Regions from separate parts of the Homo sapiens genome. Here regions 1 and 2 are each reported to be linked to region 3. Evidence: microRNA targets listed by miRTarBase, many of them from high-throughput screens and not tested one by one. Region 3 holds a microRNA gene; each other region holds the end of a gene's coding sequence.

Region 1 (7,998 bases), not on the chromosome of region 3:
CGATCTTCCCGCCTCAGCCTGCCATAGTGCTGGTATTATAGGTGTGAACCACCGTGCCTGGCCCTGGCCCTGCCCGCCTTGGGTTTTGATTATTAATTCTCTCTCCTCTCCCTATCAGAAGAATTTTGACTTAGTGAGCTATATTTTGATGCTCCTGCCAACTGGGAGTTCACTATTGGAGGCTACCATTTAGAAGGAGATTGTGGATAAATAAGAGGTGTATGGGGGGTGGTGCCAGCAGCATGGTGGGTTTTTTGTTTTTTTGTTTTCTTTTGAGACGGAGTTTCGCTTTTGTCACCCAGGCTGGAGTGCAATCGCGTGATCTTGGCTCACTGCAACCTCCGCTTTCCGGGTTCAAAAGATTCTCTTGCCTCAGACTCCCGAGTAGCTGGGATTACTGGCGCCCACCACCTCACCCCGCTAATTTTTGTATTTTTAGTAGGGTTTTCCCATGTTGGCCAGGCTGGTCTTGAACTCCTGACCTCAGGTGATCCACATGCCTCGGCCTCCCAAAGTGCTGGGATTACAGGCATGAGCCACCGTGCCCGGCCGAGCATGGCGATTTTTAGAGGAGGTCACTCTTAAGTCAGTACACAAGGTCTGAGCTTTCCTTCCCGTTACAGTCCCGAGCCTTCCTGAAGGACTATTACCGGGACCACAACATCGAGCTCTCCAAGCTGCTGTATAAGATGGGCCAGACACTTCCCACTTGGCTACGAGAGGACCTCCAGAACACCAGGTAGCCGTGGCCACCACAGCCAGACTGAACGTTTGTGAAAGCTGGGACATCCCACCACACGCTGAGCCAGACCTGCAGAGTGGGAAGCTGGACCAGGGCAGCTGCGCACTTATGAGCAATACTCTGTGGAGGTCTGGTGGGGCTGGGGGAGCACCCAGGCGGATCTGCAAGCACCTCGGAGCACCCACCGCTGGGTCTGCGGCCTAAGGGACCTCCCTCGCCAGCAGAGGTCCATTCCGTTCCCAGCTGCTCCTGGGGAGGCCGCTTCCTGGTAGGAGGGAGTCCACGAGACTCTTTTCTGTCCCTCACTGTGTTCCGCCGACTGTCCCCTCTCGTCACCCATCACTCCCTGCTTCCGCAGGGCGCCCCTCAGTATTCGCTGCCATATGTCCCTGTCCTCCAGGCTGTAGGGGAGGAGAGCCTGGCCGGGGGAGACAGACTGGACATTTCCCTGTTTCGAGCCAGGCTCTTCCAAGGGGCCAGCTGGGTCCCCGGAGTCAGTCCTAGGCTGGATGGGAGGGTGGCCCCCTCAAGAGGACTCCCAGCCTCCACATCTGGTTCCTACCTTCACATCTCACCCTCCCGTTCTGGGGAAGAATTTCTGGTTCCTACAGTATCCACTCCATCCTCAAGGCTTCCCGCAGGGCCTTGGGGCACTGCCTTGCCATCGGGCCCAGTTCTCCGGGCCCCACCTGCACCCCTTTCTTCCCCCTGGGATATGATGTGTGGTGTTTCCTGTGGTAAAAGACTGAGGCAGGCCAGGGGTCTGCCAGTAACATGTTCCCATGTACAGACACGGTCCCCACACCCTCCCAGCCTCAGGCCCAGGCAGACATGGGCGAGCTGGTGAGACTGCCAGCCACGGCTTTGCTTAGCCACCTGTGGCCGAGGGCTCTCAGAGACCCCCTTAACCTCCCAAATACTAAGAAGCTAAAATATTTTAATATTTTGTTTTTTTTTTTCTTGGTGCCAGAGTTTATACCCTGGGTGCTGGGGTCGCACTGTGTTATATATATATATATATATATATAATGTGTATATATATATATTCTATTTTTTTTGGTTGGGTTCGTTTTTAATTCAGTCCTACAAAATGGTGGTAAGCCCCAGTCTCAGGGGTCACCCTGTCTTAGAGCTAGAGATGAGGTGGCAGGGAGGGAGGCTGTGTCCTCAGTGGCCTGGGGCTGAGCAGACCTTAGGAAGGGGCCCTCCCCAGTGCCGTGGCTGCTCTGGGGCTACCCCAGGTGAACAGAGGTGGTGAGATGCGCAGGGAAGACCAGCTCTCTCCAGGACATCGGGCTGCGTGAAGTCCAGTGACCCTGAGGGGATTTTGGCCAAAGGAAACAGCCAGGGCTGGGCTAGGAGAGCTGGGGTCAAAAGCTGCCCCACCCACTCTCCCTCACATGGTGCTAGGCTGGGAGCTGCCCTGAGAGCTGGGATGCCCACCAAGGCCCACAGAACTGTCTCCAGGCCCTTGTAGACAGTGGGATCTCTGGGCTGATTTCTGGTTGGGGTCTGCTCCTACCCCACCCCATTTAACAATGTGAAGTGACTGAGGCTGGGGTGCCTCTCCCTGGCCCCCTCCAACTGCCAAATTCTGCTTCCCTCTGAACCCCAGGAAATACTTTCTGGAGAGGCTTGTCTTGTTCAGAAGACTCTAGCATCTTGGGGCTGGAAGGTCCTTTGACGGGTATGAAACAGGTCCAGAAAGGGGAGGTGGCCTGCTTGGCCGACGTCATGGAGCCAGCTGGGAGCAGGGCTGAGCGTTGAACCCGAGGCTCCCGGTTCCAAGTCCCATCGTGCTCCTCTTCCAATGCCACACTGCCTCTGAGCCCATCCTTGGGACCCTACTCTGTGCCAGGTTCCTGTCCCTTCCTCCGTCACAGCATGGTCATTCCAGGATATGGGGACAAACCACTCCTTCCCAGCCAGGGTGCCTTTGAGCCTTCTCATTCCGAGGTCTGCGTTTGCATCCCTGTCGTGTTCTCCCTCGAGGGGTCCTTCCCCAGCCTGTGGGGGCCTGGGTCTGTTCTGAGCTGATTCCCTTTTCTCCAGTTCTCTGCTGGGATGAAGAAAGTTGGACACTCAGTGGGACCAGCTGCAGGTGGTTTCACTGTGTACACAGCAGTGTCCCCATCATGCCTCTCAATGGGGCCTGCAAGCCTGGGAACTTGGGCATCGTTGGGCCAGCAGGATGAGCAGCAAAGGGTCTGAGGACAGGGTGGCATGTCTGCTTGTGTGCTCATGAAGACATGCCCACGCCATGGAGCCAGGGGCTTATAGAGAGGGGCAGTGACTTCCAGAGTCCCATCCGTCAGTGAGGGGACTGGGCTGCGGGATGGGTGAGGATCTTACAGCTCCCAGGTTCGGAAATCTACCCTCTAGGCCTGGAGGCCTCTCTCGCAGAGCATGGAAGGCAGGAGAGGTGGGCTGGCCTAGGGCAGGAGCTCCACTTCTCTCTGCCTCTGGCTATGGGAAGGAGCAGGCGGTTGGAAATCCTGTGACAGCAGAGATCTTCTGGATTTTTGCCTGGACCCTTCTGCAAGCCTGGAGACTGGACCTGCCACATGTTCCAAGTCTGTCTGCCTAGGTCACTGCTGCCACTTCTCCTCCCACTAACAGACCTTTCTTGAAGACCCACTAGGTCCAGACACTGCCGGGACTTGCAGGTATGGGGGGTAGAAGGAGAGGCAGATAAGCTGCCTGGGGGGCTGTTAGCTAATGGGTACAAGGACACCCCCTCCCGAGAAGAGAAGCCACAGATGAGTGGGCCAGCGAGGCCAGTCTTCAATGTCCACTAATTCACTCTAAGCATTTGGCCAAAAAAAGGAGAGAGAAATAACTGAAATTGTTCAGGTGGCTCCATCGTCTATTCTGTGGTCCCCTCCATGAGCCTTTGCCCCAGGGTGGGTGCAGGTGCGAGTGTCACCTGCAGCTGCCTCAGTCATTCAGAGTTCCAGAGCCTTCTGTGGTGGAGCATCCTGCTGCTTGGAGGATGAGTCTGAAGTTTAAAAATGGGCCTTTTCTGAGCCCCCCTGATGAGCAGTCAGTGCTTCTGGGCCCAGCTAAGGAAGCCATCTGTTCCCAGCAGAGGAGAGCTGCTGCGCTGACCTGCAGAGGTTGGTGGTCCCAGCACAGAGCTGTGCCCATGGGCTTGTTAGTGGGAAAAGCAAATACAACAATGTTTTACCAAACATTTAATTATGAATGCCCACTCCCCAGCATCTAGATCTAAAATTATTAACATTTTGCCACATTCTTTTTCTCTCTCTGTGTATGTATATGTTTTCTCTGTCCTAATTTAAAAGTACATTGCAAACATCATGAAACTTGATCCCTGAAAGCTTCAGCCTGCATCTCCTAAGAGTTAGGGCATTGTCCTACACATTGGCCCAGTATCACAGCCAAGACGAGAAGTCATTTCCCAGCGATGTCTGCTATCTAATCTGTATTCAAATCCCCCCAATTGTCTCCCAGGTAACTTATGTGTCTGGTTTTGGAATCAGCATCCAGTCACGGTGCACACATTGCATTTTCTAACTATGTTTTTAAAACCTCTTTGAATGCTGAAAGGTCTTCCCTCAGCTCACTTTGAGTTTTTAAATGACATTGTTTTTGAGGCCCTAGGCCTGCTGTCTTTTTGAAGCCCCACATTCTGAATTTGTCAGATTGTTTGCTCATGGTGTCGCATAACCACTTCTTCTATCCCCTGTACTTTCAAGGATAATTTAGGCTACATGAGATTTTGCCTTTTGTGCTGACTTGACAGCTTCACTTCTGCCTAAGATGCGCCTCCACTGTCACCTGTACCAAGTGCCAAAACAGCAGAGGGGCCAGTTAGAGCAAGAGCTCTGGGGGGGCCGGAAAGTCTCCCTGGAGAAGGCCGTAATATCTGGGCCTTGGAAGGAAGGACACAGGGCTCTGGAAGGAGGAGGCTGCATGCCTGAAGGCTGGGCCTTCGACCCTGGGGATGGGCCACAGGGCACCAAACACATCATATGTCTCTCTCTTTCTATTTTGGGGTCCCAGGGTTTTCATTTCCTGGAGACCCGTGGTCTGTGTGCACTGGAGCAGAGCCAGGCTCTCAGTTGCAGCAGGGAAAAGCCTACATGGGGAACTGCCTCCCGCAAGCTGTGGTGTGAGAAGAGCCCTGGCTGGCAGCAGGAGCTGTGAAGTTTCATCCCAGCCGGGTGCATTTAGTAGCTGCCTGACCATCTTCCTCCCAGGCCCTCAGTTTCTTCATCTGTAGAATGAGCAGATAGGGGCCACAGCAGGGATTTTCACACATCAAAGGAGGCAGCCTCTGCTCTAGTTGATGTGAGGATGAGGGGGCGGCCTAGACCCCCTGCTGCCCAGGCCGTTGAGGCAACACTGGGTTCCTGGCTTGACAGCTGTGGGCTGGCTGCCCTTGCCAGCTCAGACGGCTGGCGAGTTTTCAGCTTCCCTAAGGGACTGGCATAGGGTTTTGTGGGGTCAATGCCAGGAACCTGGGGGAAACTGGATGCGTTTTATCCTAAGAAGTTCATCCCTCCTGCTCTTACTGTTTCCGGCCCTGGAGGAGAATGAGGGAGGAGAGGGTTTTCTATGACTGTGTTAGCTTTTATTATTAGCAAGAGGGCTCCTTTTGTAATTTGTGCATGAAATTCATGTCATTTCCTGGGAGAGGAGAGGGCCGACTGGAGAGGGTGGGGGGCACACTGGGGAAGCAGGCAGAGGTTTCCTTCCCTTGTAGGGGGGTGGGGAGAGTGGGGAGAGGGGGTGCTATCCAGTTCGCCTGATGAGGGCTCTCGAACCAGCCGTTTTGGGTTGTGTTAAAGGTGAGACCTTCCTCCATTAATGTACAATCTCGAACTAACTGCTAATAAAGTGGGGTTCTGTTTGTACACCTTGGTCCTGTCTGACCTTTTTGCAAGGCCCGCAGGGAAGGGTGGAGTAGGGGTGTTTGCATGCACGGCCAAAGCCCGCTTGTCCCTGCCACCTCAGGCATGCACACGTGCCCACATGTATGCACACACCTATACACATGGTGACTTGGTCAACGCAGATCATTTTCACTGGGTTATAAATGGAAGATTTCCCAGATACAGCAGAGGCCTATCCTAGGGCAGCCACAGGGGGCATCTCAGGTGATAGAAGCCCTCAGACAAGCTGGATTGCTCAGAAGCCCTGGGTGTCGGGCACTGGACCGAGAGGAGACTTGGGGGCTGGAACAATTTCTGCTACTAATGTATATTGTAGCTGGGGGCAAGCCACTTTTACTGTTTTATCCCATTTCCCTCACCTTTTAGACGCATGGAGGGAGTTGGACTCCATGGCCTCACTTGAAGAACTTGCCTAAAACATGCAGATTCCCAGGTCTACTTCCAGAGATTCAGCTCCAGCAGATGTGGGGTGGGGCCCAACATCTTTAAGGAGCCCTCCAGTACACTGAGGAATTTATAAGGAGCCCTCCAGTACACTGAGGCAGCCCAGTGTAACTCTGGCTCAGAGTGGGAAACTCTGACTCAGATCCATGGTTCCTATGGGTTCTAATTAATACGGAGAGCCCCACTGTCCAGGAAAACTTAGGGTAAAACAAATGACTGAAGCCCTCACAGCCTAATTGAGGGCCAGACTCGAGATTTGCCTGGAGAAGGAGAGTTCACAGGTAGGGGCCCAGGCCAGTGTCTGCAATGCAGGTGATCAGACATGCTCCTTCAGAATCCCCTTGGGAAGCTTTAAACAATATACATTCCTGGGCTCCCCCAAAATCTGCTCACTCAGAACCTCTGGGGTGGGACCCAGCACTGTGTACTTTAACAGACTCCTTGGTGTTCAGGGAAGTTTGGGAACACTGAATCAGGCCACCATGTTTGTCAGAGACGGTACCCAGAAATGTGCACAGCTTCTGAGGGACAGAGGAGGGGCATGCTGGGGACACAGCTGGGCAGTCCTGCTTCCCAGGACCCAGTATGTTCAAAGTGAAATACCACAGTGCCACCTCTGATGGCACAAGGGCAGCACCTGCAGAGCCCTCTTTGCAGTTCGTCAGCTGGGAGCTTGGTTTGGGTCAGGTGGCCCTCACCAGCAAGAACACAGCTGGAGGCTGCATGGACAAGAGCAGATCCAGAGGCATGGTGCAGAAAGGTGACTGTGCCAACTGAGGGGTCAGCCTGCAACAGGGATTTTTGAATTTACATACAGCTGAGATTCTGTTTTGAAAGAATCACTTAATTGAAAACCAGGTAAAGGTGGGGGTGCTCTGTGGTTGGAGTGGGAGTGAAGCTCTGGACTCTTCCCAGCTCACCTCCTCCCTGTCTCTCAGGCTATCTTGGAACCCTAAGATTTCTCAAAACACATTGTGAAAACCCAGCCCAGTTGCTTCCAGAGGTCCTAAAAGTCCTGCAGTTCTAATAGGCTGAATGAGTAGCAGCCCATCAGCCCCTCCTCACCCCCCACGGGGATGTCCACCCAGTAAATCTGGTGCCCCAGGAGTGGTTTGGGCTTCTAGAGGTGGGGAGTTACCTTGGAGAAGCCTGGATCATGCGTGTAGGGCAGTGTGTTTCACAATAGGAAAACGCTGGGAACAACCTAGATGTCCATCCACAGGGTCTCAGCTAGGTAACCTCCAGTGTATCCATTCACTGTAATGATGATTCAGTTGAAAGTAATGAGCTCAGTCTCCAAGCCCTGCCAGGGAAATTTCTATGACAGACTTATACAATGTGACCATCATGGAAAGAGAACACTACAGTTTGTATTTTTCCTGGGGTTGTAGATAGACGTCTCATATCAAACTGATACTAGGGGAGGAAAGACTGAGAAGGGGAACTTTCAAAGGAGACTTCAGCCTTGGCTGAAATATATATAAGACAAGGATAATGCATTTGCATATCATTTGTGGAATGAAAAAGTCTTAATGAAAAATAGAAATGGACAAAGCAGAAAGGGGGACTCCAAGCAGCTAGACTTACATGACGATGCGATGAAGGCCAACACTGCTTTACCCAGCCCTTAAGCTCCTATGGAGTTAGGATCTGGAGGAGGCCTAGGTGCCGGTGATCAATTTCTTGCCTGGCTGCATTTATCCTAAGCATTCGTGAAGACCCTGAGCTGAGGATCCTGACTTTCCTGTGACTGTAGGCCAGTCTCAGCTCCTCTCTGGCCCTGGGAGCTTAGCTTCCCCAAGCTGACAGACGGGGGAGCTAGGGTTAACATCACCATTGCTGGAACAAATTGACACCATGTCTCCCGATATGATGCAATGGGAAGGACCCAGT
Region 2 (7,888 bases), not on the chromosome of region 3:
TTCACCCAATTTAGTATCCGTCTCTTTCTCCTTACCACTCTATCATAAGAATTGTTCTGTGTTATTACATTCCTAATAAACTTTCTTTTCTCACAGGATAATTATTTCTATTCTATATTTAAGAAAGTCAGAACTTAAACTATTTTAGACACCACAATTAGAAACCAACAGATTTTACGCTAACGAAATAAATCAGAAATGTTATCAGTTCCCCCATGTAGAAGTTCCCTCTTGGTTCTGTTTTGATCTTTATAATTTATTCCAAGTTCACACCTCTCAGCTCTATATACCTTGAGCAGTACAGACGTCCCCCAGTAACCTCAGGGGATTGGTTACAGGATCTCTTGCGGGGATGCTCAAGTCCCTGATATAAAATGGCATAGTATTTGCATAAAAGCCTACATGTATCCTCCCACATATTTTAAGTAATCTGTAGATTACTTGTAATACCTAACACAATGTAAATGCTGTATTGTTTTTTGTTTTTATTATTTTTATTGTTATATTGTCATTTTTTGTTGTTGCTTTTTCTAAATATTTTCAACCTGTGATAGGTGTAACCTGCTGATACAAAACCCATGGGTATGGAGGGCTGGCTGTACCTGGTTGGGAATAACAAAATTCTGTGCCAATGGAAGGAACACTATCAGGCAGTCCCTGAGGCCCTGAGTGGTTTACCTTGGGAGTGAGGTGGCTTCTCAGAGGATGGGGATTGGACCAGTGTTCCCCAGGACCACAGATGGGGCAAGGGCAGGGCTGACCTGCCCTGCCTGCCCTCCACCTCTCTACCCACTTCTGGCCTTCCCTGCACCTTCCCCACCCCATTTTCGGACCTGTCTGCAGTTTACAGAGCTTGCCATACTACCTTTTACCGCCTCTGCCCCTTACTCCAATTCATCTTTTAAAAGTGGGTTCAGCACAACTTCTCAGCATCCCCCAGGCTGGGTTATAAGCCTGTTGTGTGCATTTGCAACTCTTACTGTCACTGGGTATTTCACTGCAATGCCTCACCATTGCTCTCATGGGGCAAGGACACTGTCTCCTCCTTGCCATGCCTCAGCACCCAGGACAGTGCCTAATATAGGGTAGGGGCAGGACTCCTGTGTTGAAGGACCACCCTGCTCTCCGTGGCATGTGATCCGCACGGCGATCACAAGGTGGCGCTCGCCACACACCATTTGCAGCTCCAGGTTCTAGTCACCAGGGACACCCTTGCCTGGACTGGGACAGGGCCCTCAGAGTTGCATCCTCTCTCTGTAGATGCCTGAAGGGAACAGCACTGTCTACATCCCTGAGGACCCCACCTTCAAGCCCTCAGGACCCTCAGTACCCTCAGTACCCATGGTGTCCCCACTACCCATGGCTTCCTCGGTACCCTTGGTACCCTAGGCTCCCAGGGCAGGTGAGGAGCAGGTGAGCATGGGCTTGGCTTGGGGGATGACAGGGAGGTTCTCCCAGTGGGGGCCCAGCTCTCAGAATCAGATGTTACTAGCAAAGAGGCAAAAAGCAAACATCAAGAAATGAGGGCTTCCACCCCTCCTGCCTGAGGTGCAGTGGGCACATGGGGTTGGCAGGGGAGCTTCTTAGAGTCAGACAACGTGCATCCAGGACAGACACAGGAACAGGTGAAGGCACAAGGGCCTGGAAGGAATATGGAAGGAGACCTGGGGGCACACTTGGCTTTGTGACTGTGCCTGCTGGTGTGTGACTTTGAGAATCTCTTCACCCCAGAGACTGGGCCTCGATTTCCTCATCTATAAAAATGAAGCTGACACGTCTGGTTGTATTCAGTTGCTCAGCTCAGATGAGACCCACCCTCCCCTCTTTCTTTCCGTCAACTAACACTGTGCCTCCTCTGTGGAATGCACCAAGCCCTTGCTCATGGCTTTCACATCTAACCTTCCCAAGATCTCTACAAGGCAAGTAGAATTACTGCCCTCATTTTAATAGATGAGCAAACTAAGGCTCGGAGAAGTTCAGGTTCTTCAAGATCACACAACTAGCAAGTGGAGAAACTGGGGTCCTTGCTGGTCATTGTTACTGTTTTTATTATTGTTATTTAACTTCCTTGGAGGCCAGAGCTTGGCAATAGCTGGGTCTGGGGCCTGAGTGATGTGGCAAGAGAGGATGTTAGGGTGCCAGGAAAGAGGAAGGTGAGGCTATGCCCAGTTGCCTTTAATGTCCACCCCATCCAGAAAAGAAAATGGTGCCTGAGAGGCTACAGCAGGACCCGGCAGTGACCCGCTGCTCTTGGCTGTCTCCCTGCAGGCTCCACAGACTGTCCTGGGGCCCAGAGGAGCTGGTGCTGACCTAGCTAGGGATGCAAGAGTGAGCAAGCAGCACCCCCACCTGCTGGCTTGGCCTCAAGGTGCCTCCACCCCTGCCCTCCCCTTCATCCCAGGGGGTCTGACTGAGAATGGAGAAGGAGAAGCTACAAAGTGGGCATCCAAGCCGGGTTCTGGCTGCAGAAGTTCTGCCTCTGCCTGGGGTCTTGGCCACATTGGAGAAAAACAGGCTCAAAGTGGGGCTGGGACCTGGTGGGTGAACCTGAGCTCTCCCAGGAGACAACTTAGCTGCCAGTCACCACCTATGAGGCTCTTCTACCCCGTGCCTGCACCTCGGCCAGCATCTCCTATGCTCCCTGGGTCCCCCAGACCTCTCTGTGTTGTGTGCGTGGCAGCCTCCAGGAATAAACATTCTTGTTGTCCTTTGTAAAATGGTGTGAATGCTCCAATGGGGCCAGTTTGAGGGAGAAAAGGACCCAAGAGACCTGCTTCTGCCCCAGCCCTTACCTTCATCCAAGGGTACCACCCACACTGCGAGGAAAGTCATTGCAGGCTGAACAGGCAGAACTTGGGTACTAGAGCCTGCCTTCAGCCTGGGGCACCCAGCAGGGCTCAGCTCTGGGCTGGGGTCTTGCTTCAAGGCCCCTCCATCAGCTACTCCAGAAACTCAGCCCTTGAGAAAGCTGGCATCTCTGTTGTGCCCTCCATGTGGTCCTGCTCTGGGCACTCCAGCAGGACTGCGAGAAGGGAGGGAGGGCTCCTTTGGGCCCATCTCCTCCTCCCCATCCCTTCCCTTCTTTCTCTCTGCCAAGCCAGCCTTCTTTTCCCTGGACAGTGGGGTAAGGTTTCAGGAGGGTAGATCTCCCAGGCTCACCACCACCCTGGGCAGAGTAATACACCTTCCTGCCCTCAGGGGCTCACAGTCTAGCTGGGAGACAGACCTGACCCTCAGAATCCATGCTGAACTCTGACAGGTGTGGCTGGACAGGAAGTCTGTACCCAGTTGGCTTCTCAAAGCAGGGCCACCTGAGCAGGGTTCTGGAGGCTGAATAGGAGTTTACCAGAAGGATGGCAAAGAAACAGCATGGGCACAGACCCATGGGTAGGAATTAACACGGTGAAGTCTGCTACTGGCTAGAAGAGATGTGAGGCAGAAGTGTGCCAGTTGGAGAATAAGACTTGGAATCCGGATCTTTTGTGGAGCAAAGGCTCCTGGGAAGAAGGGGTGAGGGAAAAGGGAGGAGGTCTCTCAGCTTCCAACTCCGCCCTCCCCGCCCCCTTGCAATTCACACACACACACACACACACACACACACACACACACACACACACACACACACACCGCTGCATGCCTCTTACCAGTGCAGGGGGGAGGGGAAGGAGGGATCTGAAATGCAACCTATTCATGTACCCGCGATGTAACACCCCTCATTTTCCATGCTGGGTAAAGACAAAAACCCTTTACAACCTGTTTCTGGAACTTGTCAGCAGCTGCCAAGAGGAGCATGTTAATTAAACGTCGGCAAAGATGGAAGCCGGAGACCCTGGCTCTAATTGGACAGTTTGCTTCACCGGATTGAAAAACATTGTGACAAAGGAGAAGGTGCGCGGCGCTCGGCAGGGGTGCGGCGTGGCGGGGAGGGAGCTGTGGCTTTGATTTCAGCTGATCTGAGCCCCAGCCTCCCTCCCCCAGCAGAGCCGCTTGGCCCAGCCCCATATGCCTATGAAGGGCCTGGGAGGGGCCCGCAGCGTGAGAGGGTGCAGGGTGGCGTGGGGGGCGGGGTGCGAAGGGGTGCTGGGGGGGTGGTTCCTGAAGCCCACCTCCCACCCCTCCCACCCCAATCCCAGGCACCACCAGGCCAACAGTATTGGGCCCAACCCAGAGCCAGGCTTTTAGGGCTCTGGGGCTCACCCCTCCTCCTGATCACATGACCTGGGTCCTGGGGGCTGCACAGGGAGGGGAGGGGGCCAGCGCTGGCTTCCAACTCCCTCCTGTGCAATGTGCAGGCTACACTAAGAGCCTATGCCCACCGCGTCTGTTACCAGTTGAGGATAGTTGTCCAAGTTCTTGGCATTTTGAACAAAGAATTAGACCAAATGCACAAAGCAAGGCAGCAAAAGCAGAGATTTATTTTAAACGAAAGTACACTCCACAGGGTGGGAGCGGGCTCGAGCAAGAGGCTCAAGAGCCTGGGCTACAGGATTTTCTGGGGTTTAAATACCCTCCAGGGGTTTCCCATCTGTTCACTCTATGCACATAAAGTAGTGGCCCGCAACCAGTCTGATTGGTTGCGGGAGGGAACCAATCCGAGGTACTTTCATTTCCAACTGCCAGGCAGCAACTGCCATGCAGAAAAAGGAGGGGTTGAAAGGGAGTAGCCTCTGATATCCAGTCAGCATGCATCGAACTTAGGTTCCCTGCCTCCAGACCCTATTCTCCTGCCTCATTTCCCCCGAGAGACATGATCCCCAGAAATCTTTATGGGAGACAGAGTGACTGATGGTCTTTCTTCTGTAACTGCGTCACCCTGACTTGAGGTGCAGTCCCTACCTATTGGGGATCCCCGAACTCCTGCCTTTATCTATCGAGTGGAGACTGGGTAGTTTCTTGATGGCCAGGGGTGCTGCCTTCATTTGGAACAGGCTGGAAACCTTGTCACAGGATCATCTGAAACTTGATGGTCTCTAGGTGAGAGGAAATGAATTTGGTTAAAAGATTTAATGGGAACTTCAGGGGGTGGATACCTATGCTGTCAGGAATGTTTGTTATAGGAATGAATTACAACAGTCTGCTTAGTCACTACAAAGGAAGTGATTCCAATCGTTTGAAAGAAAGCACCTAAACTGCAAGAAATCTGAGAACATGGCTGCTATTATCCAGCCTACAGTAACTATGCAACAAAAACACCAAGGAAAGTTGGTAGGCATTTACTTGTCTTTTGACTGTCTGATGGAAACTTCAGGCTCCTGGTCCCTGGCTTCAGGTATCACAGACTTGATCCTTGAAAGATGTATCCAACTATCTAATCCTAGTACCTTGACCATAGAAGGCATAGCCAGTACCACTAAAAACGGTCCCTTCCATTGGGGTTGCAATTGTTGAGCAGGTGATCCCTCCTTCTATGTTTTAACAAGTACCTTATCCCTTAGCCTGATTTTGGGTTGCTGGTTAGTTCCCGGTATGGTGGGGCCTTTGAGTTCCAAACTTTTGTAAAGCCTGCTGAAATTGTCTTAAGTTAACTAGGTATCTTGCTAAACTGGCTGTTTCTGGATCAGTAATTAAATCACTAGTTAAGAATGGCCTTCCATATAACATTTCATAGGGGGTTATATTAATTTTTGCTCTAGGGGTATTACGGATCCTTAAGAGGGCTATAGGCAGTAAGCTGACCCAAGTTTTTGATGTTTCCTGACATAGTTTAGCTAACACTCATTTTAGAGTTTGGTTAGCCATTTCTACTTTCCTGGAGGATTGAGGCCTCCATGCTGAATGTAAATAGTATTTGATTCCAAGAGCCTTAGCAACCCCTTGAGTTATTTGGGAGATAAAAGATGAGCCATTATCACTTTGGAGGCTCTGAGGTAACCCAGACCGGGGGATTATTTCTTTTAAGGGAAACTTTATAGCCTCATTAGCCTTCTCTGTTCTGGTAGGGTAAGCTTTGACCCAACCAGTAAAGATATCTATTAGCACTCACAAAAACTTGTATCCTCTGCAAGCTGGCATATGGGTGAAGTCTAATTACCAGTCTTCCCCTGGGTAAGTTCCTCTCCTCTGGTCTGGTTCTATTAGAGGAGGCATTTTGTTTCCTGGGTTAAGTGCACACAGTGAGCAGGCTTGACAGGCCTGCTTAACCACCGAAGTTAAGTTAGGCCCAATGAAGAGCCTGTTAACCATGGCCAGGGTGGCATCTCTCCCCATATGGAAGGAGTCATCCAGGGTTTTTATAATTCTCCATTGGGCTGTTTGAGGCAGATGTATTTTTGATCTCATATACCACCAGGATCTTTTTTTTTTTTTTTTTTTTTTTGCCCCACTTGCTCCTTTATTAACTGTTCTTCCTGTAGTGTGTATTTGGGATCCACTGGGAATCATAGAAAGGAATCAGTGCTAGGATCTGTTGGGATTGCACCCTGAGGGATGTGGCTTTGGCTTCTCTATCAACCTTTCTGTTCCCTTGTGCTATAGGAGTTAAGTCCCTTTGATGCCCCCTACAATGGATTATAGCTATGGCCTGTGGCAGGTGTATTGTTTACAATAGCTGAAGAATTTCAGGCCCATGCTTTATGGGGGAGGGTTTGCTAGCTAGTAGTCCCCTTTCTTTCTAGATTGCAGCATAAGCGTGAACCACAAGGAATGCCATATTTAGAATCTGTATAGATGTTAAGCTTTTTATTTTGTCCCAAAATTAATGCTCGGGTAAGAGCAATGATTTCAGCCTTTTGTGCTGATGTGCCAAGGGGCAGTGGCTGGGCTTCGATAAGGGTGTTGTGATTGACTATTGCATACACAGCTCAGTGTTCCCCATTTGACACAGAACTGCCATCTGTGAACAAGTCCTCAGAATCTGGGAGAGGCTGATCTTTTAAATTAGGCCAGCTAACATATGCATGTGCAATGACTGGCTCGCAGGAATGATCTGTCATTGGGCCTATGGGTATCAATGAAGCTGGATTCAAAGTGTTACAGGTTTTAAGGGTTACATCTGGATTGTCTAGGAGCACGGCCTGGTATTTGGTTAACCTTTCCCCCATCACCCAGATGTGTCCTTTTATCTCTAAGACTGACTTTACCTGATGGGGGGTTAGAACTTCCAGTGATTGGCTCAGGGTGATTTTAGTGGCTTCCTCCACTAACATAGCAATGGCTGCTGTTACCCACAGGCAACTTGGCCATCCCAAGGCCACTCTCTCCAACTTCTTTGAAAAGTAGGTGTTTGGTCTGGGTTCTGATCCTAATTTCTGGACTAGCACTCCCACAGCTATGCCATTCGTCTCTGCTACATACAAGGGAAGGGCTTAGTTAGGTCTGGGATCCCAAGAGCTGGAGCCTGGGTAAGGGCCTATTTTAGCTTGGCACAGGCTTCTCTCATTTCCAGGGTCCATTCCATTAGCTCATTTTCAGGCCTCCTTGTTGCTTCATACAGGGGCTTTGCTATGAGCCCTAAATTTGGTACTCATATTCCACAAAACCTGGCCATTCCCCAAAAAGAATGAAGCTGCTGCTTGGGGTGGAGGGGCCCAAACCACATATGGCTTGCACTCGTTCTGGGGATACTTGCAGGTTCCAGGTGTTAAGATGTACCCTAAACAGTGGACCTGTTGGAGAGTAATCTGAGCCTTCTTTTTGGACACTTTGTATGACCTGTCAGCCGGGAAATGTAAGGTTTTTATAGTATTTTGGTCAGAAGCCTCTTGGGTTGGGCTATACACAAGAAGGTGATCCACATACTGGAGTATACTCCCATCCTCCAATTGCAGACCCCTCAGATCCCTCTCTAAGGGTTGGGCAAAGAAGTGGGGGCTATCCCAAAAGCCTTAGGGGAGCACTGCCCAAGTGTTTTTCTCTGGTATTAGGATTTTCCCATTCAAAGGCAAAAGGG
Region 3 (8,046 bases):
GCCTAACTCAAGAGTCCAGTTTTTAAACCATTCATGAGAGGAGTTATCATATATCTCAATCTGGGCCCTGTTAACCTGTCTAGGGATAGTTCAAAAATTACATTAAAATTATTGTATGTATATATATTTTGCTAGGAAGGGGATCCATAGGTTTCCTAAGATTCTCAAAAGAATCCCTGGCACAAAGTGCATAAAAAGAAGAAGAAACAATCCTGCTATGTGACTGTCATTCCTAGGGACTATAAAGCAACTTCCAGAAATCTTTCTTGAGAGGCATTGAAGGTTATAGAAATTTGGAACATTTTTTGTTATCATAATATGCTCATTTAAAACTCATCACCTCTATGACATCTTCTCTGTATTATTTAAACTTCCTTCCAACAAGGTGAGAGCACGGTGCTGGCAGGGCAAGTGGTGACCCATCCAGAGAACTGTGAGTGTCAACAGTCCCTCCAGTCCAGGGGTTCAGGTGAACAGCTGAGCATACAAGTTTAGGAAAACAAGCTCACCTTCAACAAAGCATGTAAATAAAAATAATTCAAGCCTGATCCATAAGGATTTCCCTCAGGTAACGAAGTCCTTCAGGCTGAAGCTCAGTCATTTCCAGGGAGGGCTGAGTCACATTTAGATTCTTCCAGGTACAAGTTTCCTCAGTTGAGGTGGTTGGATTCGCCAGGCCTGGATATTTGCAAAATGCCCTGCTTGCCTTGATTAATGACTTTCTCCATAAAGCCAGTCTTGGTGATGACATGACAAAGCTCCTCTGTCCCTGTGTGTTAATAGTACAGAGAGACCATTAACTGCTGGCAAGTATCCCAAAATTGCTCTGAAGATGTAGAGGAATTCTAATGAAATGTAAAGCATTCATCAGAAAGGAGCATAATAGATTTTTCAAAGCTCATGCTCAGTACTTCCACTTAACAAATGCAATACCATCCCTCTTTAGGAAATACACGCATTTCCCATGGAAGAAAGAAAAATATTTCAAATGGTCCTCTTCATTTTTCTGTATTTTCTAAATTTTAGGTTATAAACATGTACTAATAGTATTGTTATAAAGGAAAAGAATTCATGGAAAATTTTAAAAATTTTTCTAAAGTCATGCATTCTTGTGGTTCCCAAAAGTGTTTTATTGTCACATAAATAGGGGAAATGCACTCAAATGCAGAGATACTGAATTAGTAACCCTAGTGCTGGGGGTCTAGATTCTCGGCAAGTGGCATCCAGAAGTTCAGTTTATGTCAAGTATTCTTGCTTATAATTGACACAGTTGGTTACCCACCCAATACATTTCATGTCTTTCTTTTAATAGCCCCCAGATATTATTTGAATAGCTACCTCTCTCCATGCATCCCATATTATTTCAGAATAAGCTCAAACTTCCCCCTCACTCCAATAGTGGTCCCTGGTTGGTTTTACTCAAGCATGAGTTCAAGGGTGGGCCTGTGACCTGTGCAAGCCAATCAAGGTTGATTGTAGGACTCTTGCTCAGAAAGCTGGGCCATAAACCCGCTGTACCCTGCCAGCATTGAACAGAAACCGTATTATCCCAATGCCTATGACAGCCATCTTAAAGCCATGAGGGCAACCAGACTTAGGAGGAAAATGACACCGTGAGAGCCATAGAAGGGAGATGGAAAGAAACTAAATCCATAGTGCTACCCTCAAACTGCTGGATCAACCAATCATGGACGCGTTATTGCCTCTGCATGCTCAGGTTCCTAAAGTAATAAATCTCTTTCACTGAAAAGGTCAATTGAAATTAAATTTTCTGTTCCTTGCAACAGGATATCCTAGCTCATATGCAACTCCTTACAGTTATTGGTTTCAGTTGCAACACAGTGTATCAGCTGATTTAATTCAGTCCAGCATTTTTTTTTTTTTTTTGGCATACCAAGATTGGACTTTAGCCATCCTCATGGCAATCAAGTAATGTTTACCTATTAAAAAAAATAACTGATGCCGTATACTTCAGGACTTTCTTCCCATCAATGATTATGACCATAACCAACATTCCTCTATAACAAGACTCTGGTTTCAGTGTTTCATACCTCCATAGATGTCTCAGAATCAGCCCCATCCTGCCTTGAGGTCTCTAGTTCTGTCTCGTTACTTCTGACCTGGACCTTGACTCCTTGCACAACTGTTTTAAACTGACCCTCTATTGGGATAGTCTATGTTATTTTTCAGTTCACTTTTACCCCAGATGTTGACTTTCAGATATGCTTAGCTTTCTTATCCATCTGCCATGATCTAGCCCAACCTGTCACAATGCCAGGATGCACAAACCCTGGAGTGCATCCAGAGAATTGGGCAGTCTGAACTGGAGATGCTGGAGATACAATAAATAAGCATCAATCTCTATAAGTAAAATGAGAACATTGGACTTAAGATTACTCTGAAATGTCTTCAATTTATAAGATGTAAGAGGCTAGAGACATAGCCCTTACTCTTGAGGTATTAACAAGCCCACTACTCAGTAGGATGCTGATAATTAGAGGACTCAGTAATCAACATTTTCAAATAGCACTTTTCTGTGTAACAACTGAATAGTGTTGAATCTACTCCACAATTGTTAGAAATAGGACACATATTACTTAGCATTTTCAGCTTTATTTTTCAGAATGTAGGACATATTTTAATAATACAAAAAATGTTCTAATATAGAAAATGCCATAATATCACTATCTTGGTTAATCCCCACAGTAGCCTCACCACCAACAGGGAACATTCTTTGCATATCATAAAAGACTACTGGAGATTTATCCATTTTCTACCTCTGTGGCCACATACCTTACTTACTATACCTGTCTCAAATCCTACACTCCAACCTAACCAGATCACCAACAGTCCCTGGAAGTCACAATTTTGTCTTTATCTTTTCTTTTTCTCTAACCAGAATACTTATACCCAACTTCTTCATCCAGTGGGTATACTCATCATTCAAGACCCAGCTAAATTCTTTCCTCCTCACATACGCCTTCTCTGATCTTCTGAAAGTTGTGGCCGCACCTTCTATGTAGAAGACAGACAGTGAAAGAAAGATTTCAGAAAAGAGCTGCAAGCCATTTGAAGCCTGGAAATTGCACCAGTGATGCTTCTTAGTGAATGCTTTAGGCTTTAACCAGCCAGATCTACAACTTCTCCTTTGCAACGGAGCCAGGAAGCAGAATGGAAGAATGGACAAAAAGGTAGATGCTCCTCCCTGCAGTGTATTACCAAATTAGAATTCAGGCAGAAGTTCCCTCTCCAACATACAGTACCTAAAAAAATTTTGTATTGTACATGTGCATATAATGGATCGCAGAAGTCTGTGTTGTTCAAGTATAGTTGAACAAGTCTGTGGGCCCCTAACTCAAACATTAGGTTTATGACAGTAAGAACAATAACCTCTCCATAGCACAGGGCCTGCTATAACATAAGCACTCAATTAATATTTTTTCTTAATAAAAGTGAATGAAGGACCAAATAAAAAATAGTCTTTACATCGAATAAAAGAATACCAAGTGCTAGTGAGAATGTGGAACAAAGGGAACTCTGATCATTAGTGAGTGTCAATTGGCACAATCACATTGGAAAACTATTTGGTAGCTCTTCCTATAACTAAATGTAAAACCATGTCCCAGTAATTCTACTCCTGAGTATATACCCTAAATAAATGAGTACATATGTCCACCAGAAGACTTTGACAAGAATGTTCATAGAAGCTTCATTCAAAATAGACAAAAATTAGAAACAACCCAATTGTTCATCAACAATAAAGTGGATAAACAATGGTATATTATGGGTAGCAGAATACTACTCAGCAAGAAAAAGGATAAATGATTGCTAAATAGAACAACATAGATAAATTTTAGAAGTACAATAAAGAGCAAAAAAGACCAGACCTAAAGGAAGACATAAGGTATGATGATTCCATTTGTGAATTATGACCGTGAATATCAATACGAAGTTAAAAAACAGACTGAGAATAGGCAAGGCTGTGGTGTTGTAAATGTTCTGTATCTTGATCTAGGTGCCATTACGTGGGTGTGTGCATGTATATATGTGTGTTGCGTGTATGTGTATGTGTACATATATACACACATATACACACATGCAACACACATATACACACACATACAAATATACACATATAAAAGTTCATAAAGTTGTACATTTAAAGTTTTGTATACTTAATACATATGTTATACATATATGCAAATTTTTAACAACTTGAAGGGATTTCAGATTCATTTCATTTTCTGGTTGAACTTGAGAGAACACAGTGAGAAACTGCATCAGAGTCAAAAGTTCAGAATTAGAAGCAACACTTTCCTTATTTTACAAATGAGAACACAGAGCCCAAAGACATTAACTTAACCAGTGACCACTTTTCTTGTTAGTCACAGAGCTAAGCCAATATGTTTTCATTACCCCATGCCTTCCAGTACACACACACACACACACACACACACACTCACAAAACAAACTGTGGGCATGAATGTGGAATGGAGAGATGGCAGGGAAGCCTGTAGAAACAAAAGGGGTTTTCTCTAAATCTCATCCTCCTCATTGCCCCTTCCCCATTTCTCCTTCCTTTTCCTTTCCTTAATTCCAGGCATTGTTGACTTCTCTCATCTTCCCTGGTGCTTATTCTGCCTTTCTCTACAATTACCCATCCCAACCAAACACAACTCTATCTTAGTGGATCTCAGGGCGGTCCTCAGATGATAGAAATGGAAAAGTAGATAAGCACAAGTCATGTTTCTTTAAGATATATTTAATACAGTTGTACACTTATTTACATCACATCTCATTTCCAAAAGGTCAGCTTGGAAAAATCCATATATTACAAGATGGTAAATACTGAGGAAATTGCTGTAGGAAATATCAGAATTGGAGGAATAAGATGACTTGAGTAAAATGCTTAGGGTAGGGAGATTTTTTTCATGCTTCTACAACTCTAATATCAAAGTCAGGAACTGCTGCTGTACCTACCTCCCCAGTGGAATTTCCTTTGCAGAGGATCCTGAAAAGGAAGATTCTGATCCAGAGACCTCCTTTCTTTCTTTCTTTCTTTCTTTTTTTTTTTTTTGAGATGGAGTCTCGCTCTTGTTGCCCAGGCTGGAGTGCAATGGCGCAATCTCAGCTCACTACAACCTCTGCCTCCTGGGTTCAAGCAATTCTCTGCCTCAGCCTCCCAAGTAGCTGGGATTACAGGCTCCCCCCACCACACCCGGCTAATTGTTATATTTTTAGTAGAGATGGGGTTTCAACATCTTGGCCAGGCTGATCTTGAACTCCTGACCTCGTGATCCACCCGCCTCAGCCTCCCAAAGTGCTGGGATTACAGGCATGAGCCACCACACCCACCCAAGACCTCCTTATTTTACAATGAATTAGAGGAAATAAAGGCCTTATTTTAGTTGGCCCTGAATATAAACCTAAGAAATATGAAATTATGCCTGCCATCTAAATTACCTAGCTGCTTCCAAGGTGCTGTTGAGTTGTAAACAAATTAAAGAGAAAGCATAATTTGATCAGAGACATGTTACAAAGGACTCCTCCCTCCACACTAGCTCAGAAGCCTCAGGACACGAGCACTAGATTCAACCATGCCAATCAAATTGCCATGTGGTGGGCCTCTACTATGTTTACAAAATGATGCACGGAATAAAACATATATTAAAATTGGGTTGTGGGAAATAAACCACCATTCCAAATGTCGACAACACAGAAGCCAGGAAATACACATTTCAAGTATTCTCTTTTTATTGCTCATTCATCCAAGTTTCACATGTAAAACCAACATCCTAGAAACCAACCAAAGAGTTTAAAATGCTACTTGCTACTAATGCAAGAATGGGGTCATTAATTCCTGTCTATTATCTCTTACTGTTGTCTGAGGAACCTCAGATAATACACCTTAACTTAGTTAAATGAAAATTAAGGTCTGAGTTTTTGTTTTTCATTATGAAAAACAGAATGGAAAACAAAAGATATTTGAAGACTATAAAAATCCTTGAATGGTACAAATATTTAAAAATTCTAAGTAGTCGTTAAAAGAATTCATGGCCCAGTAGAGGAGAGTGGGTTCAGGGTGTGGACAAAATGAATCCTTAGAGTTCTTTCCAGCCGGTAGCTACTTCCACACAATTATGATTCCTAATTAGTCCATGACCCAATCTTTAGATTTGCACATCTGATCTCCTAATTTAAAATTACATTTGTAAATGTTTATATTTTTATTATCTTAGTGGTTAAAACCTGGGACTCCACAGACAGTTGGACTTGGGTTTCAATTCCAGCTCAAAAATGTGTTAATGATGTAATCTTGGGCAAGTTAATTAACTTCTCTTAGCCTCAATTTTCCTGTCTGTAAAAGGAATATACAAATAATATTCTCAATAAATTATTATATTTGCAAATAATTTATATGAATAAATTATAACTAAATATTAAATAATATAAAAATCTCTCTATAGGGGTTGTTGTGAGGATGGCATGGTAGTAGGAAGTGCAGTCATTGTTAACATCAACATCATTATCTCCATGATCATATTCACTCCTACCGTCATAATGAATTTTTGCAAAAAACATAGAGGAAATCATCTTCATTTTCTTAAAAGAAAAATAGCCCACCCCAAGGAAACAGATGAGGGCCATTCATATATATATATATAATTAGTAAAGTAGTAAAGGCCAGTTTTGCCAGACTTAACCTTCCAGAGATACATTATGGGAGCTGTGCTAAAAGGGAATATAAGGGAAGTATATCACAAAGCCTAAGAATTTGTGGTAACTAGTAACAAAAACTGGGACAAAAGGAAACACATGCCAGCAAAGCAGGCTCAGGATTCTCTGAGGAAAGTTAGCAAAACCTGGACCGTGCAAGAAAGAAACCAGACTAAACCAGTGTAAAGGCCACTTGCTTGGGCTCAGTGTCTGAAAGTCAGCACTCCCTCCTTAGGGTGGAGACTTCAAGGTTATATCAGAATTTACTACATAACTTTTGTTGTGAGTTGTTACAGTGCTTTAAAGCTCATACAGTATGTAGTCAGTGTAACATAGTACTAAATTTAGGGTGCGGATTTGGTCACTCTTAGCTAATCTTTTTTATTGTCCCAAGAACATCCCAGGATTAAAAAAAAAAAATCTGAGAATGACTATAGATAGAAAATTGGAACCTGATGAACTGACGGTTTTATTTATAGTCCTAGAGTGGCCAAAATCAGATGAATACCTGATTTGTGCGTTCAGACACCGCATGTTATAACATGAACTGCTTTCTTCGACTCTGAAATAAAGTGAATCCTATTCATGGCAATCAGTTTAAAGTAATTCTTTAAGACACTTAATATTTATTTATTTATTACTATAAGTTCTAGAGTACATGTGCACGACGTGCAGGTTTGTTACGTATGTATACATGTGCCACGTTGGTGTGCTGCACCCATTAACTCTTCATTTACATTAGGTATATCTCCTAATGCTATCCCTCCCCCCTCCCCCCACCCCACGACAGGCCCCAGGGTGTGATGTTCCCCATCCTGAGGACACTTAATATTTAAAGCAGCATAATGTATTGCTTTCTAGAAAGCCCCAAATTCATGAAATCTAGCAAGCAGAAGTCTTGTCTATTTAACCAGCAATGAGGCATACAAAGAAGTTTTCCAAAAATAACAAAAACCAGAAATTACTTCTTCCTGGAGCTGCAGGGAATCATATTTACCAGCTTCACTGAATAATCAACTAAAAGTGGAATTCCTGAAGAAACACTGGCCATAACCAACAAGATACAGAAATCAACATCACGTGAAGCTATTGAGGCCCGTAGAGCAGTCACTACCCTGCAGAGATCAAAGGAAAGAAAACACTTCATTCTAGGAGCCTGAGAGCCACGCACGTCCAAGCGCTCTTATCCACACTCTCCTCATAGCTCTGCTGCAGATACCACTGAGTAAACCAGTCCCTGGCTAATTGTTCCCTTAACAGCAGAGAGTGAAGGATGATGACAGCAACAATAACATTAGCTGACACTCGTGAATGCTTACTATGTGCCAA

The links. The annotated mature microRNA hsa-miR-466 reads AUACACAUACACGCAACACACAU and lies in region 3 at 4,046-4,068, opposite strand. An mRNA with a match to its seed (bases 2 to 7 or 8) in the 3' UTR can be bound and repressed. Matches are read on the target gene's strand: a 7mer-m8 pairs with bases 2 to 8, a 7mer-A1 pairs with bases 2 to 7 and ends in A, and an 8mer does both.
Region 1: miRTarBase lists NDST1 as a target of hsa-miR-466. Seed matches in the 3' UTR shown: 7mer-m8 at 1,771-1,777.
Region 2: the mRNA of RHCG is a reported target of hsa-miR-466. The part of its 3' UTR that is shown has no 7-base or 8-base seed match.

What each region holds. Positions count from the first base shown.
Region 1 is chr5:150,552,590-150,560,587 of GRCh38, forward strand. NDST1 (N-deacetylase and N-sulfotransferase 1) reads left to right here. Exons shown (of 15, transcript NM_001543.5): 15 at 624-5,622. The coding sequence ends at 743. Among named protein-coding and RNA genes, the nearest start is that of NDST1, 48 kb to the left of the region's middle. RefSeq lists an enhancer at 4,519-4,688.
Region 2 is chr15:89,466,236-89,474,123 of GRCh38, reverse strand. RHCG (Rh family C glycoprotein) reads left to right here. Exons shown (of 11, transcript NM_016321.3): 10 at 1,261-1,413; 11 at 2,269-2,717. The coding sequence ends at 1,389. It overlaps LOC105370964 (a long non-coding RNA gene), which reads left to right and starts at 4,852. Exons shown (of 3, transcript XR_932600.4): 1 at 4,852-4,974. LOC112268153 (a long non-coding RNA gene) reads right to left here. Exons shown (of 2, transcript XR_002957725.2): 2 at 4,393-4,970.
Region 3 is chr3:31,157,669-31,165,714 of GRCh38, forward strand. It overlaps MIR466 (microRNA 466), which reads right to left and starts at 4,119; the gene lies at 4,036-4,119.